2 linked regions of the Homo sapiens genome follow. The protein of the gene in region 2 purifies or fractionates together with the protein of the main gene of each other region. This does not show direct contact. Each region holds a gene or a part of one and is shown on either strand. Other genes may lie near its edges. The genes, in order: TUBGCP6 and AHCTF1.

Evidence for each region.
Region 1: the proteins of AHCTF1 (region 2) and TUBGCP6 purify together in Homo sapiens (affinity purification with western blotting, with the first as the bait; one study listed by BioGRID). This does not show direct contact.

What each region holds. Positions count from the first base shown.
Region 1 is NC_000022.11:50,217,003-50,221,141, forward strand, and holds the end of TUBGCP6 (gamma-tubulin complex component 6), read right to left. Parts: coding exon 3,249-4,139; exon of another isoform or gene 3,190-3,248; intron 3,014-3,189; coding exon 2,955-3,013; intron 2,790-2,954; coding exon 2,642-2,789; intron 2,455-2,641; coding exon 2,286-2,454; intron 2,208-2,285; coding exon 2,066-2,207; intron 1,896-2,065; coding exon 1,701-1,895; intron 1,619-1,700; coding exon 1,486-1,618; intron 1,401-1,485; coding exon 1,187-1,400; intron 1,116-1,186; coding exon 916-1,115; intron 826-915; coding exon 734-825; 3' UTR 692-733; downstream 1-691. UniProt on the Homo sapiens protein: Component of the gamma-tubulin ring complex (gTuRC) which mediates microtubule nucleation.
Region 2 is NC_000001.11:246,848,399-246,852,207, forward strand, and holds part of AHCTF1 (protein ELYS), read right to left. Parts: intron 3,641-3,809; coding exon of another isoform or gene 3,587-3,640; exon of another isoform or gene 3,507-3,586; intron 3,045-3,506; coding exon 1,217-3,044; intron 1-1,216. UniProt on the Homo sapiens protein: Required for the assembly of a functional nuclear pore complex (NPC) on the surface of chromosomes as nuclei form at the end of mitosis. May initiate NPC assembly by binding to chromatin and recruiting the Nup107-160 subcomplex of the NPC.

The sequences.
Region 1 (4,139 bases), on a different chromosome or scaffold from region 2:
GGGGACGCTGCCGCCTGGCAGGCTGAGCACGTGCGCGTGATGCACGCCAACAACCCGAAGTACGTGCTGAGGAACTACATCGCGCAGAATGCCATCGAGGCTGCCGAGCGCGGGGACTTCTCAGAGGCAAGCACACGCCTGTCCCTGTGGTCCCTGGGAGGGGGGTCGGCCCCAGACCCCTCTCACCCTCCTGATCCTCCAGGTGCGGCGGGTGCTGAAACTACTGGAGACCCCTTACCACTGCGAGGCGGGGGCCGCCACAGACGCCGAGGCCACGGAAGCCGACGGGGCGGACGGCAGGCAGCGCTCCTACAGCAGTAAGCCCCCGCTCTGGGCAGCAGAACTGTGCGTGACATGATCTTCGTAACGGCCTCGGCACGCTCCACACCCCTGGAGTCTCCCGAGGCCCCCATGTGCTGCTGAGTGGCCAAGATGATGCCAGGCTGCCCTATACACTGGGGGATTCTGCCCTGGCCCATGCACACCCGTCTTTCCATGATGGCAGAGACATCCAGTCAGGACCTGACCCGTCTCTGTCTGAGGCCGGCTCAGCAGTGCAGCCTGGTCCCTGGGGGCTGGACCCAGGCTCCTAAATAAACCAGCAACTCCCTCGAGTCTGTCTCTGTGGTCATTGTTCCCCCACCCTGCCCTGTCCTCAGCCCCCACCCAGGAGAGAGAGCTGCAGACAGGGTCCGAGAACACCTTTATTGTGCACGTCCCCCGCAGAGCAGCCTCAGGCGTCCTGGTAGTAGTTGTTGAAGTTGATGCGCAGCAGAAAGTCCTCCAGGTGGGGCTGGTAGCCGCGGTTCACCAGCTTGGTCACCACTGGGGACCAGCGAGCAGCTCAGGCTTTTGCCCACAGTGTGAGCCCCGCCCTGGCCCCCCCGCAGCCCTCCCAGCCAGGGTGGGCCTCACCTTTGAAGAGAAAGTGGGAGTAGTACTTGAAGGTGTTGTAGGACTGCTGCATGAGTGCAAAGTTGGGGTGCTCTGCACCCCGCGGGCCCCCAGGGGGCCCCCAGGCCTGGGAGATGAGCTGGCTGCGGAACTTGAGCACGAGGCTGAAGATGCTGTGGATGACGTTCATGACGGGCGCCGCCTTCTCCGTGAGCAGGCCCCTGGGGGGAAGCAGTGCTGCTGGGTGGGCTGAGCCGTGACCACAGGGACGCAGCCGCTGCCCAGGCCTCACCTGAAGACGGCCTTGTGCAGGTACTCTGCGTGCGCACGCTGGATCTCCTCCAGGTCGCCCACGGTGGCCAACCTGGCCCTGAACTCGCACCAGGTGACGTGCAGGATCTGGTTGGCGATGTAGCCCTGGATGACCTTCACGAAATGCTGCATCTCGTGCTTGAACAGCTGCAGCTGACGGAACTGCACAGAGCCGGCCATGTGGCTCAGCAGGGCTGGCGGAGGGCAGAAGGCAGAGGGCAGAGGTGAGCGCAGCCTCCAGCCAGGGGTGCGGGGCGCCGGGCTCCAGCGGGGCCTCACCTGTGCGCTTGAGGTGGAAGCAGACGTCCTTGAGCGCCCACATCATGAGCTTCAGCTGCAGCAGGAAGGAGAAGACGCCGCTGTACTTGCTCACGCAGCCCTCGGTGATGACAATGTTGAGAGGCCAGTCCACCTGCCAGGAGGCGTGGCTCAGCAGGCATCCCACAGGCAGGCAGGCCCCTGTCCCATCCCCCGCGGCCAGGGCTGCTGCTGACCTTGTACCTGAGCTCCAGGCAGCTCAGCACATCCGGGGCGTTGGGGGCAAACACCTCGGGCAGGTACTTGAGAGCGAGGGAGAGGTTGGAGGCGTGCGGGGTGTCCCCATGCAGGCTGCACTGCAGGGCCTTGCTCAGCACAGAGTTCAGCACCAGCGGGTTGAGCAGCTCTCCGGGCGTTTGCCCAGCTCCAAGCTAGGCAGAAAAGGGACCACCGTCCCCAGGAGTCCCAAGCACATGCCTGGCACTCGCCGGCACCCCATGGGGCTGTGCCAGAGCAGCAGGGGGCTGTGGGCGTGCAGCCAGTCTCTCTTTTCCCACGGCCTCCCCTCTACCACTGGCCCCACCCCGTGTCCGGAGGCCACCTTCTCAAAGAGCAGGTCGCTGAGGGACTGGGCGAACTCGCCGTCCTCCATCAGCAGGAAGTGCCGCAGTGCCTCATAGTGCGCCTCCAGGTGCAGCTCCACGAAGAAGTAGTCGACAGCGGCCTTGTTCACCAAGGAGATGCTGGCAGGAGGGAGCTGGAGTCAGGGCGGGCCAGGACGGGCTGGGTGGGCAGACTGGCGCAGGGGCAGGGGCACTCACTGGGCGGCCAGCGGTGCCGTGATGGAGCGCTTCATGAGCACGGGCAGCGTCAGCAACTCGCTCAGCTGCACAGCAGTCTCATCAGCGGCAGACTGGACCTGGGGGTCCACGGGGAAGGCGAAGGCCCGGGGAAGCACGGGGCGCAAAAGATGAGCAATGGGCGGCTCGGCTGCGGGAGATGGAGCACGCACGTGCTGGGAACCGGCCAGCCCAGGGCTCCGCCCCCATCCACAGGAGATGGAGCACGTGCTGGGAACTGGCTAGCCCAGGGCTCCGCCCCAACCCACAGGAGGTGGAGCACGTGCTGGGAACCAGCCAGCCCAGGGCTCCCTGCCAACAGCAACTGCTGCACTCACACATGGACTCGTAACTGTCCGGGTACCGCTCCAAGTGGTACTGCCCTGCCAGGCCTGCCAGGTAGGCCTGCTCCCCACCCTGAGCCTCCGCCGCCGATGCCTCCGCCTCCTCACCACGGCCTGGGCTGCTCTGGGCAGCTGTGTCTTCCTAACAAAACACCAGCCTCAGAACCACCTCCCCACTGCACGCTGTCCCCACAACCAGCTTGTGCCAAAAAAAGGAAAATCGCATGTGGGACCCACCCGCGTGACAACCTAGAGGGACAGAGCCCTCCCTGCCTGCTGTGGGACCCCCAGGCTGCATCCACCTAACCTGTGAGTTGAGAGGCCAATTTGGAGAGAGGTCCTCAGTGTCCCCGCTCCTCCCAGGGCCTGTGTGGACACAAGTGGACACGAGGGCATCAGGGCCGAGTGCCTGTGGCGGGTACAGAGCCGAGCCGGCCCTGGCTCAAGCAGCCCCTCCCATGTCCCCCACAGCAGCCCAGGTCCTGGCTGACAAGGAGGCCTGAGGGGAACTTCACATGCCACCAACCCCACTGCCCGCCTACCTCCCAGGCTCTGTGCGTCCCACAGTCCCACTCCTGACCACCAGCCACCCTACTCTGACCTAGTTCTTCAGAGACACTGTCTCCCGGGGTGTTGGGCCACCATGGTTGGGTGGGAGCCACGTCTGACACGTTCTCCCCCACGCTGATGCTCCCCTCCCCGCAGCCCGAGCTGGGGGAGGACAGAGATGGCCCCACTTCTACAGGCAGCCGTGGCCCACAGTCCAGCACAGTGCTCTGTGCTCCCAGGCTGAGCGCTGACTGGGACGTGTGGCCAGGGGGGCTCTGTTGGGGCCTGGGTGTGTTGGGCTCAGCTTCTGGTGAGAGAGCCCCCAGCACCATGTGGGGCGGAGGGATGGGTACATGGGTGTTCCACCGTGGCCGGGTGGAAACCACATCCGACACAGGCTCCCCCAAGCTGATGCTGGCGTCGGACACGTGTCCATGGGTGTTGCACCGTGACCGGATGGGAGCCACGTCCGATACGTTCTCCCCAACCCTGATGCTGGTGTCAGACACATGTCCGTGGGTGTTCCACCGTGGCCGGGTGGGAGCCATGTCTGACACAGACTCCCCCAAGCTGATGCTGGCATCAGACACGTGTCCATGGGTGTTCCACCGTGGCCGGGCGGGAGCCATGTCTGACACAGACTCCCCCAAGCTGATGCTGGCATCGGACACGTGTCCATGGGTGTTCCACCGTGGCCGGGTGGGAGCCACGTCCGACACGTTCTCCCCAACCCTGATGCTGGCGTTGGACACGTGCCCGTGGGTATTCCACCGTGGCCTGGTGGGAGCCACATCTGACACATTCTCCCCGACCCTGATGCTGGCGTTGGACACATGTCCATGGATGTTCCACCGTGGCCGAGTGGGAGCCACATCTGACACAGACTCCCCTAAGCTGATGCTGGCATTGGATACGTGTCCGTGGGTGTTCCACCGTGGCTGGG
Region 2 (3,809 bases):
AGTAGTGTTAGCCAGGATGGTCTCGATCTCCTGATCTCGTGATCCACCCGCCTTGGCCTCCCAAAGTGCTGGGATTACAGGCGTGAGCCACCGTGACCGGCCAAGTCATCTACTTTATTTATAAGGTCCTGAACTGCTTTGCTGAAATTCAAATATTAAACTGTAACTTAAATAGTCAACTACATGGCTGGGTGTGGTGGCTCACGCCTGTAATCCCAACACTTTGGGAGGCTGGGGCGGGTGGATCACTTGAGGTCAGGAGTTCAAGATCAGCCTGGCCAACATGGCGAAATGCTGTCTCTACAAATACAAAAAATTAGCCAGGCCTGTAATCCCAGCTACTAGGGAGGCTGAGGTAGGAGAATCCCTTGAACCCAGGGGGCACATGTTGCAGTGAGCCGAGATCATGCCATTGTGCTCCAGCCTGGGCGACAGAGTGAGACTCTACCTCAAACAAACAACACAAACCCCCTACATTTTGTTTACCTAACCATTAACACTTTTACAGAGAGTTACTCTGATGGGATCTATTCAGCCACACCAGTGTCTTAACTTTTTAGACATGTTTAAAGCACCCCCTATTAAAATTTTATTACTGCAGATATATTGTATATCTGTTTGTATTCTTAATGCATATATGTGCTCCCTTTGGGGAGAGATCACCCCTGTTGAGAAGCTCTGACCTACACCAACCAAATACAGTCCTTAGCTCGTGACAATGAAGGATGGCCTCACTGAAGATGAGGGCATGTAGATGCGCCAGTTTGTGGGCAATAGTGAATATGGATTGAAATAATTTCTGTATCTTAGTAAAAAGCTACTGGTGTTTCCCTTCAAAACAATTTCGGGTTGTGGATATCACTGGGGTGTGAGCCAAATGCAGCAGTACATGGGAGATTAAAAATATTGACTATTTTGGAAGAAACTTAATTAAAAGTCACTTATAATTTATAAAACTCACAGAAGAGAAATTACACTATTCTAAAAAATAAATCTGTTACGTGAGTTACAGGATTTAAGTCATGTTAACCATACTGAATAACTGAACTCAAACTTTGAAACATGAAACCTTTAAACTTTACTACTAAAAGATCAATTTTGGTTTGAGGGGGGAAGGGGAAAAATTCCCTATAAAACCATTTTTAGGACAAATAACCAAATTTTAAGCTGAAGAGTGACTGAGATGAAAAACTGTTTTGCAGAGAAAGAAAAGTACCTTTTGCTTTCCTTGGAACTTCTGACGCTGGAGAAAATAAAGGCTCATTGTTTGGTTCAGAAAGGTCCGGCAACAAGATGGCCTTGCTAGACCGAGTCCTGCTGCTGCGGGATGATTTAGTGAAGGAAGCTGTGGCGAGCAATCTTTCTTCCTGCTCATTTGTTTCTTTATGTGTCATTTCATCTGTGCGTTCTTCTGATACTGAGTGCAATGAACGTTTTTGGCTTTGACTTTCAGTCTTTTTTGTAAGTTTTTTCTTAGAGCTCATCACCATCGAAAGTTCCTCGTTTGGCACTAAAATGGATTTTCCTAAAGCTGGTTTTCCAACATCAACATTTTCACTTTTAGCTGGGGTATTTCTTGTAGATCTCCTTCTAATGCTGGGAGCTTCTTTCTTCTTGGGGCTTCTCTCTTCCTTAACAGCCTTAGATCCTACATCTTCAGATGGATTGATTTTTCTTGGTCTACCACGTTTTCTAGGTATGGCAGACATATCAAATTCTGCTTGAACAGTCAACTGAGATGACTCAAGGTTGGAGTCTTCTCTCACATCTGATGGACTAACTTCTCTCCCTCTGACCCTTCTAACATGTTTAATACGCAGCTGCTTGTCACTGGATTTATCATCTTGCTTATTTCCTGTATTTTCAGAAGCATCTAAATTAGTACTTCTCAATTTTCTGATCATTCTGCTAGGACTTGTTACCGTACTAACTTTTAGATCATTTATAATTTCAACACTTTCCTGATTTTCTACAGATCTTTTAATTCTTCTAGGAGTCCTTTTTGTAACAGATGAAACCTTAACTTCTTTTTTAGTAGTTTCTTCAACTGCTGGTTCCAACAGCTGAGATGATTTTAATCTTTTTGATTCCCTACCTGTAGTGATCTGTAATTCTTGTTCCACAGAACTGGTGTTTTCTAGTATGTCCTGATTAACTTCTTTCTTTCTCCTTCCTCTCCTAGGCGTAACAGAATTTTGAGGTATTTGCTGGTTCTGAGATAGTCCTCTGACATCAGAATAGATGTTTTCAGAAGCTTCAGAAATTTCTTTTGCCTTCCTAGTTTTCTTCCTGACTGACTGCCCTGGCATCTTAGGAGTAGCAACATCTGCTGATGCTTCCTGTTGTGCTGATTTGACATTCACGTTTTGGATACGTTGACCTCTCGTACGAGTTTTGGAGGAAACCACGTCATCAACCTGGCTGACATTCATAGTCATTGTGCTTGTTTCCTGAGCAGTCTTAAATGCAGATTTGACCAATTTAGTGGGACACATTATGTTTTGGCTCACTAAAGGTATTGTTTCATGAATGGACTGTTCCATTGTATCTGAAGTAATTTCTTTACTTCTTGTGTCTTTAATTACATCTAGTAAATTTTCTGCAATTGCTACTTTAATAGGTTCAGGCACATATGGTAAAGTGTCTACTTTTTGGGACTTTTGGTCACTAGTTACGGCAGATGGCAAATTTGCAATTTGTCCATGATTATCATTTTCCCCACTGCATACAAGTTTTTCTTCAGTTGCTGTGTTAGCTGCTTTAGGTAACACATCAGATGATGCAAAATCACCTGGCTCAACTTCTCCTTCTTCACCTTCCAATATCAAGGTAAAGTTGCTTTGAGCCACAAAAAGTTCCCCATCTACTTCAGCAATGTCACATTCAGCAGTGTCTTTGTTATCAGCTAAGTCACAAAACTGTTGGTCAATAGTATCAAAATTGTACTGAAGCTTAAGTGTTCCAGAGGGATATAACTCATTAAATGAAAGATTCCTAGCCTCTTCTCCTGAATCTTGAGCTTCAAGCTTTTCTTGTTCAATCACCTAAATGAATTAAAGATAAGAGACTGGTTAAAGAATTTTAATACATGTTTTAACTTGAAGCACACAGGTTTTTGATGACCCTTGGCTGTGTGCCTTTTAAAACATAAATTATATTTAATATGGCATATACTTATGGGTTTACTTTACAAAATTATCCCTTTAAGCAATCAGACTTTCTCATTCAGTCAAAATAACTACATTTTGAGATTATGACTGAAATTTAACTAGAAATTCTACATTTCCCTAGCTAAAAAGACAGTCAACAAAAGCTTGAAAATTATGATGCTAACAGTTCTGAAAACATTTAAGGACTTATTCTATTCTCACCCAAGAAAAAAAATTAACCGGAAAAAACAGAAACAACCCCCAAACTGTGTTTTAATGGTATTCCCCAAATTACCTAACTATCCACACTTTTCTAAATAGCACGATCCCCGTAAGGTTGAAGAACAATTCACCTACATAAGCTCCCTTGGGCTAGACTCAATCCTCTTCCCTTTGCTGGGGCTGCATAAACCATGAAATTCCTAAGGCTTTCAAGTTCAGTACCTCTCCTGCAAGGGTTTGGTGGAAGAAGGAATGGTCCTTGCAATTACCTTTTGGTAAGGGAAGGGGAGAAAAAGGAGGAGGTAGAAAGTAACAGAGAGATCTCCTGACCAAGAAGGTAGAACATTACCACCCACCTAGACAATGACATTTTCCCACTCCCCAAACATTCAGTGAGATGACAGATTGGAAATAACCTAGAAATTAGGATTCCCACTT